Linked DNA regions of Homo sapiens. The protein of the gene in region 2 interacts with the protein of the main gene of each other region in a pairwise test. Each region holds a gene or a part of one and is shown on either strand. Other genes may lie near its edges.

The links.
Region 1: the proteins of GRXCR1 (region 2) and ALAS1 interact in binary tests that used the Homo sapiens proteins (3 or more experiments, as listed by UniProt).

Annotation. Positions count from the first base shown.
Region 1 is NC_000003.12:52,201,071-52,204,893, reverse strand, and holds part of ALAS1 (5-aminolevulinate synthase, non-specific, mitochondrial isoform 1 precursor), read right to left. Parts: intron 2,388-3,823; coding exon 2,160-2,387; intron 1,032-2,159; coding exon 882-1,031; intron 202-881; coding exon 1-201.
Region 2 is NC_000004.12:43,024,940-43,028,762, reverse strand, and holds part of GRXCR1 (glutaredoxin domain-containing cysteine-rich protein 1), read right to left. Parts: intron 1-3,823. UniProt on the Homo sapiens protein: May play a role in actin filament architecture in developing stereocilia of sensory cells.

The DNA.
Region 1 (3,823 bases), on a different chromosome or scaffold from region 2:
GGTGGCGACTCATTCCTAGGTAGTCATTACTGCACCAGACTGACACTTGCTTTTTGGTGATGAGGGAGTCTGAATAGTCATCTGCCATGGGGAAGATGTGTGCTCGCCGGTTCACAGTTTTAAAAACTCGATAGGTGTGGTCATTCTTTTTCTCATCAATTTTTTTCTCAAAGAAACGATCATACTGAAAAGTGGAAACAGCTAAAAATTGAACAAAAGACAGTACAGAATGGTGGTTGTGAAACACAGCTGCATTTTGGTGAAATACAACAAGTCTCAGCTTGGCAACTGAGGGAGATCCTGGGCAGGTTATTTGATGTCCTCATCTTGTAAGTAAATAAGACTGTATGTCGTGTTTGGCTCAGTGCCATGTGTAGACGGTAAGTATTAAAGGACAGAAGGCAGGCTACCAACAGCACCTGTAGTCACCACAACCAAAAGCACCTGCTCACGCAAGCAAGGGATATGGCTTTCAAGCCTCAACTCACCATACATTTTTTTGTTTTTCCTAGAAACTGAGTCTCTGTCTGTCATTCAGGCTGGAGTGCAATAGCGTGATCATAGCTCACTGAACCTTGAAGTCTTGGGCTTAAGCAATCTTCCTACCTTAGCCTCCTGAGTAGCTGGGACTATAGATGCAAGCCATCATGCCTGGCTAATTAAAAAAACTGTTTTGGTAGAGATAGTGTCTTGCTATGTTGCCAAGGCTGGCCTCAAACTCCTGGCCTCAAGTGATCTTCTCCCGCTTCAGCCTCCCAAAGTGCTGGGATTACAGGTATGAGCTACTGTGCCCAGCCTCACCATGCAATTTTATATTTAATCTAATGTACATTTGAATTATAAATTCTTTTCTACATCAGGCAAATAACAATGAGACTTACATTTTGGCAAGTTATCTTGAAGAAGATGAGACACTCTTTCTGGTCTTTGCTTTTGCATGATGTCCTGGAAGTTCTTCAGCAGTCCACTGGGATCCCCTCCATCGGTTTTCACACTAACCACACTGGGGCCTGCTGAGGTTTCAGCAACCTCTGGAACAAAAGTAACAAGAAACAAATGGGACCAACTTTCTATTCTGAGTTCACAATATCTTCCAAACATATTGTCAAAAATGGCTTATGGCCTAGTTCACAAAAAAGGCCAAGCATAACCAAAGTTAGTTATAACTGAGTGTACAAAGCATCTCTTCTATTTTAGTTACTGTAATGGCAGACTCTTGGTGTTGTTTTCAGAGCTACTGGCCAGCTTTAATGAACAATAAAGTCCAAAGCTTTCTTGCTGGTTGGCATGTCTTATTCACTCCACTACATCCCCACCCCAATCCTAATCTCAATTTTCTGTTTTTTTTTTTTTGAGACAGAGTCCCATTCTGTCACCCAGGCTGGAGAGCAGTGGCACGATCTCGACTCATTGCAACCTCTGCCTCCTGGGTTCAAGCGATCCTCCCTCCTCAACCTCCTGAGAAGATGGGACTATAGGCATGCGCCATCATGCCCAGCTAATCTTTGTATTTTTGGTAGGGATGGGGTTTCCCCATGTTGGCCTGGCTGGTCTTAAACTCCTGGCCTCAAGTGATCCACCTGCCTCGGCCTCCCAAAGTGCTGGGATTATAGGTGTGAGCCACTGGGCCTGGTCCTAATCTCAATTTTCTTCATAGAAAACAATTTTGGCCATATGCATAATTTCTGCTGGTTAGGCTTTTGGGGAGCCTTGAGTTCTCTGCAGATATAGCCACACCTATATATTGTGGAGTTAAGGTTGCAATTCAATGACCATCAGTAAGACACACGGCTTGGGAGCCCTAGGACCAGCACTTACTGCAGTAAAACCATTATTTTCTATCTTTATCCTAGCAGATGATGGGAAAGACCAAAGGGACAAAAGGCAGCTGGTGGCAGCTCAAGACTGCAGGTTATTTTCAGAAATTAAGTAGTAACTATAAAAGCTGGTCACATCCCACACACGCACCAGAAAGAAAGTCCCACTTTCGCAATACAGTCCCTTGACTGTCTATCTTGAAGACCTTCCTCTCTGGCCCTAAAAGAGGAAGGTGTTTCCATAAATACTGCCCTAATAATAGCTCATACACAAATCTGAGGGCCCAAAAGAACTAAAAGGACCCCTTCACTACCACTAATGGTTCACAACTCATCTCTTACCTTTCCTCACGGCATTCATTTCCTGCACATCCTCCTGAAGCTCAAGACTGGCTTTGCAGAAGACACTGCTGCCTCTCTGATTCATCTGTGCTGCCAGGAAAGGGCATTTGCTTGCAGTGCCCTGGCTTGTGGCAGGCAAGGGGTGTCCAGACGGAAGCTGTGTGCCATCTGGACTCTGCTGGGATCCATCAGGAGTCTGTTGGACCTTGGCCTTAGCAGTTTTGTCTTCTGAGGGAGGAAATGGAAAAAGTGAAGCATCAGATCTGGTTGCACAGTATGTAAGAAAACCACTTATTTCTTTCTTTTATTGCCTCAAAGATAAACTTAATACTTACTGTACCCCACCATCCAGACACAAGTGTTTTTTTTGTTTTGTTTTGTTTTTAAGATGGAGTCTTGCTCTGTACCCCAGGTTGGAGTACAGTGGCACAATCTTGGCTCACTACAACCTCCACCTCCTGGGTTCAAGTGATTCTCATGCCTCAGCCTCCCAAGTAGCTGGGGTTACAGGTGTGTGCCACCATGCCTGGCTAATTTGTGTATTTTTAGTAGAGATGGGGTTTCACCATGTTGTCCAGGCTGGTCTTGAACTCCTGACCTCAGGTTATCCACCTGCCTTGGCCTCCCAAAGTGCTGGGATTATAGGCGTGAACCACTGCACTCAGCCACAAGCTTATTTTTATTAGGTTCTGCTAATCTCTCTAGTTTTTCATCTGCTTCACAGGAAACAATGCGTCTATGAAGAGTTAACTGGCACATTCCAGTTGCCTCTTAAACCCACAGTATTTCTCGTCATAAATCCAAAAAAAGTACCATTTTCTAGTTTTAGACAACCCGGAATCCTTGAGTTGGATCATTTCCAGTAATTTCTACCCCAACTACACTCAGCTTATTTTATGAGAGGACACACTCTGTAAGGTAACGGGAAATATTCACACACATTTTTTTCTCTGCTAACATTTTCCTTTCCTTTTTTTTTGAAACAGGATCTCACTCTGTCAACCAGGCTAGAGTGCATGGTGCAATCATAGCTAACTGCAGCTTTGACCTCCAGGCTCAAGTGATCCTCTCACCTTAGCTCTCCAAGTAGCTTGGACTGCAGGTGTTCTACTGCGCCCAGCTAATTCTTTTTATTTTTTATTTTTTGTAGAGACGGAGTCTTGTTATGTGGCCCTAGCTTCTATCAAACTCCTAGGCTCAAGCAGTCCTCCCGCCTCAGCCTCCCAAAGTGCTGGAATTACAGGCATGAGCCACCACATCCTGTCTCTGCTGACATTTTCTAAACAGATTCTTGACAAAGAGGCTTGCTGTTGCTTAACATAAAAGCTATTGGTTTTCATCTAAACAACAGAAATTAGACTAAGACTTAGGTCTTTAGATTGCTAATAAAGTAAGAAAAAATAGGGGTATATCACATTCACATACCTCATCTACTTTCTCATCTAAATTCATCAAAGTCTGCTGACTAAACACCGTTGGCTGGTAATTATCCTTCTAGCTACAGTGACTTCCCTCTCCCCTTGAGCAAATTCATTCACCTTCTTTCTAGAAAAGTCTTTCTTCATCATTCTGGAACACTCCTGTGAGTCACTGGCTAGCCTTTCCTATAACTTGGGTAAAGTGTCTCAATACAGTTTTCATTAAAATCTTCTATAACGGAAGGC
Region 2 (3,823 bases):
GGATGCACTGCACTTAAATTTTGTGTAATATTAAAATAGAAAAAAGAAAAACTTTGAGTAAAAACAAACCCAATGATGGAAAAATAGTGTACTTTAAAAGCTAAATATGAGAAAATTCCTAAGTAGTGGAGTTCTTATCAAATACTAGAAAGAATATAATGTAGATAGATCCTTGTCATTCACTATTGCTATGACATTAAATATGCTAAAAATATTTAATGACTTGTACAACAAGTGCATCAAGTCAGAATAAATGCTGGGCTGGCCAAGGTCCTACAGTAAGGACCTGCAGGGACCCTGAGTCCAGCCCTTTACTCATTACTGCTAGATTGTAAATAGATCTGAGTTCCTAGTAAAGTAGAGTTGTCAGATTTTGCAAATAAAAATACAGGACGCTCAGTTAAATTTGAATTTCAGATAGACCACAAATAATTTTTGTTTAAGTATGTACTAAATATTGTATGAGACATACTTAAGCTAGAAAATTATTTATAATTTATCTGATATTTAAATGTAAGTGGGCATCCTGCATTGTATCTGGCAAAATTTATAGGTTAGAGTTGACATAGAAGAAAAGAGATATTAATCCATCTTGGGCAATGGCTATTTACCAACCGTATAAATTATTTCAACATCTCTTTTTTTTTTTTTGAGACGGAGTCTCACTCTGTTACCCAGGCTGGAGTGCAGTGGTGCGACCTCAGCAGCTCACTGCAACCTCCTCCTCCCAGGTTCAAGTGATTCTCCTGCCTCAGCCTCCCAAGAAGCTGGGATTACAGGTGCATGTCACCACGCCTGGCTAATTTTTGTATTTTTAGTAGAGATGGGGTTTCACCATGTTGGTCAGGCTGGTCACAAACTCCTAACTCAAGTGATCCACCCACCTCGGCCTCCCAAAGTGCTGGGATTACAGGCATAAGCCACCATACCTGGACCAATTATTTCAATATCTTAATGAGTACAAACATATTTCAATATTTTCAATAACCACAACTGCTGTACCAGTGCACACTAGGTGAATATCAACTCCTGCTATGACCCAAGACACTTGTGAATGACCATATTCTTGAATAGCCATATGGTTTTCTCATGAAATATATTTGTGACTACAAGCAAAGAACAACAAAGCTGGAATGAAATGTTAGTGCTATGCAGCTTTCTGAGCTCCTTGTCTATGTGTGGCACTTCAGACACCAGGCTCTGAGCACACAAAATTCAAAATAGTAACTCAACACAATTAAAAATTATTTTACATAATGGGCCTACAACATCACTTACAAATATTACTTTCAAAGGCTAAAATATCAAATGTTAAATTCACTAATACCAAGAGTCTACTGTTTCTTCATAATTTATCCCCTTGTCAGAACAAATTTCCTAAAATAAACTTAATATATAAATACCAAAGCTACATTTTTATTTCTAAAAATAATCACAAATACAACAAGGCCATTCTAAAATAGGATCCTCAGAGTCTGCAATTCTGTGATTAGATCTCTCTTTCATTCAAAGGATTGTTGAGAGGATTCAATGAACTAATTCATGGGAGGTGAACAGCACATTGCCTGACACATAGTAGGCACTCAATACAGTTAGTTATTATTAGCCATTATTTTATTAATAAATTCCTATTGAAATGATTTTTATTAACTGCTACCTTAAGCTAAACTGCTTGTGGTCACATGACACAACCATTTTCTACACTTCTAAGAGTCATTCAATTTAAACACTTGTTCCATACTTCGCCTTCTGGTTTAAGGTTTTGCCACTGTAAGAAAGGGAGAGTAAATGTGTTTCAATTCATGTGCTATTTCTGTTGTCTTGGAGAATAGTGCTGGAAAGATTCTCGGGCTACTTCCATTCTCAGGAAAAATTAGCTATTTCAGCCATAAACGTAAGAGAGGAAAGGGATGGCTTATATCTTGTGTGGAGGAGTCTTTGCCCCCTTCTCACACCAACCTGATGTGATAGACACCACCGTTTTACAAATGAGGAAACACAGCCTCTAAGCTGGTTTTTAAAAAGTAATTATCAAGTTATAACTAGAAAGTGGAATATTGAAGAGGTCTCTTTATGAGCAAAATCTATGGTCTTCCCTCTATGATAGTAGTTTTCAATGTTTATTTGCATCCGTTTTTTCCCAAATTATCTAAACATGAGATCCCCAAATGTAAAGCAGTTGAAAGGATAAACGCTATGACTAAAGCCAAAGTGGTGGTGAGGTGGGTGGGTCTTCAGGCAACCCACTAAAGCTCCCCAGTGACCCCTCAGCACCCAGGAATCTCATTCTTGCTTGAGGCAACCCACTAAAGCTCCCCAGTGCCCCCTCAGCACCCAGGAATCTCATTCTTGCTACATCTTCCAGCACAATTTATGCTATTTATTATTCTAATAAGAATAAATAATTTAGTCATGCCTAGCCATGTCTTTCAAAGAGCAATTTGTTATACTGGAAGTCTGGTCCTAATTTAGAGGGTTCTGTACAAAGAAAACCCAGTTGGGTTATATTGGATGCTCTTATATTAGTGTTGCTCTGAAGTCTAACCCTTCTGTAGACAGTTTTGCCCACAGATCAAGATAGAAAAAGAGCTAGGAATTTCCCAAAGAACACGGACAAAGTTTGGAGTTGGAGGAATAACTGAATAACTGAAGTTGATGAAACAGACTTCTACTTTACTAATAATATTACTAATTATTAGTAACATTACAACTAGTAACAAAACAGGCTTCATTACTATTAGTAACTATTAGTAAAAATACTGACTTCCACTTTTTTTTTTTTTTTTTGAGACGGAGTTTCGCTCTGTTTCCCAGGCTGGAGTGCAGTGGCACGATCTCAGCTCACTGCAAGCTCTGCCTCCCTGGTTCACGCCATTCTCCTGCCTCAGCCTCCCGAGTAGCTGGGACTACAGGCGCCCACCACCCTGCCCGGCTAATTTTTTGTATTTTTAGTAGAGACGGGGTTTCACCGTGTTAGCCAGGATGGTCTCGATCTCTTGCCCTGGTGATCCGCCCGCCTTGGCCTCCCAAAGTGCTGGGATTACAGGCGTGAGCCACCGCGCCCGGCCCTGACTTCCACTTTCAATGAAGAGATTGACTGCTGCGGAAACGTTGACCTGCAAGCAATTAAGAATCCAGGCAGACCTGGTTGAGAATAGCACACAGAGTACTGAATCTACAGACTGTGTCTCCTCTCCTCTGAATAGTGGTTTGGGTTGAGACAAGTCACTTTGGAGTGGAGCTCAAGAGAAAAAGAATGAGAAATCACCCTCCACTTTACCTCTTTCTGTTCATTTATTCCTGTGAGTGAGTTTTAAAAGATAGATACTCAGTGAGTGAGACCTTTTACTTATTCATTCCATTCCACAAATATATATTGAGTATTCACTAGCCAGGCACTGTGTAAGGCAATGGGAATATAGCAGTAAACCAGACACTTCTCTGCTTTCCTAGTAGTACATCTCAGCCTCACCCCTGAGTCTTGGATAGGTCTGCTCCATATTGCAGTCATCTCAACTAAAGCACACGAAATGTATTGTGTCTCTAACAAAGGACAAAAACGACAAACGACAAAGATAATGGCAGAGTTTATGAATGATTGTGAAATAGACTTCCTTTGTAGCAAAGGAAATTTGAGTTTCAAATTTCAAGATGTAAGTTTACCCCCAGTTATGCAATATAGAAACAGGATGCTAAGATCAAGAGTCTTCATGTCTTCTTTGAGATCAGGAAATGAAGCTCTTATTATTTTTAACCTCAGATCATCAAATCCTATTCCAATAGAGCTTGAAAGTCCGTTAAGTATCCTATCAAAGAGGAAGCA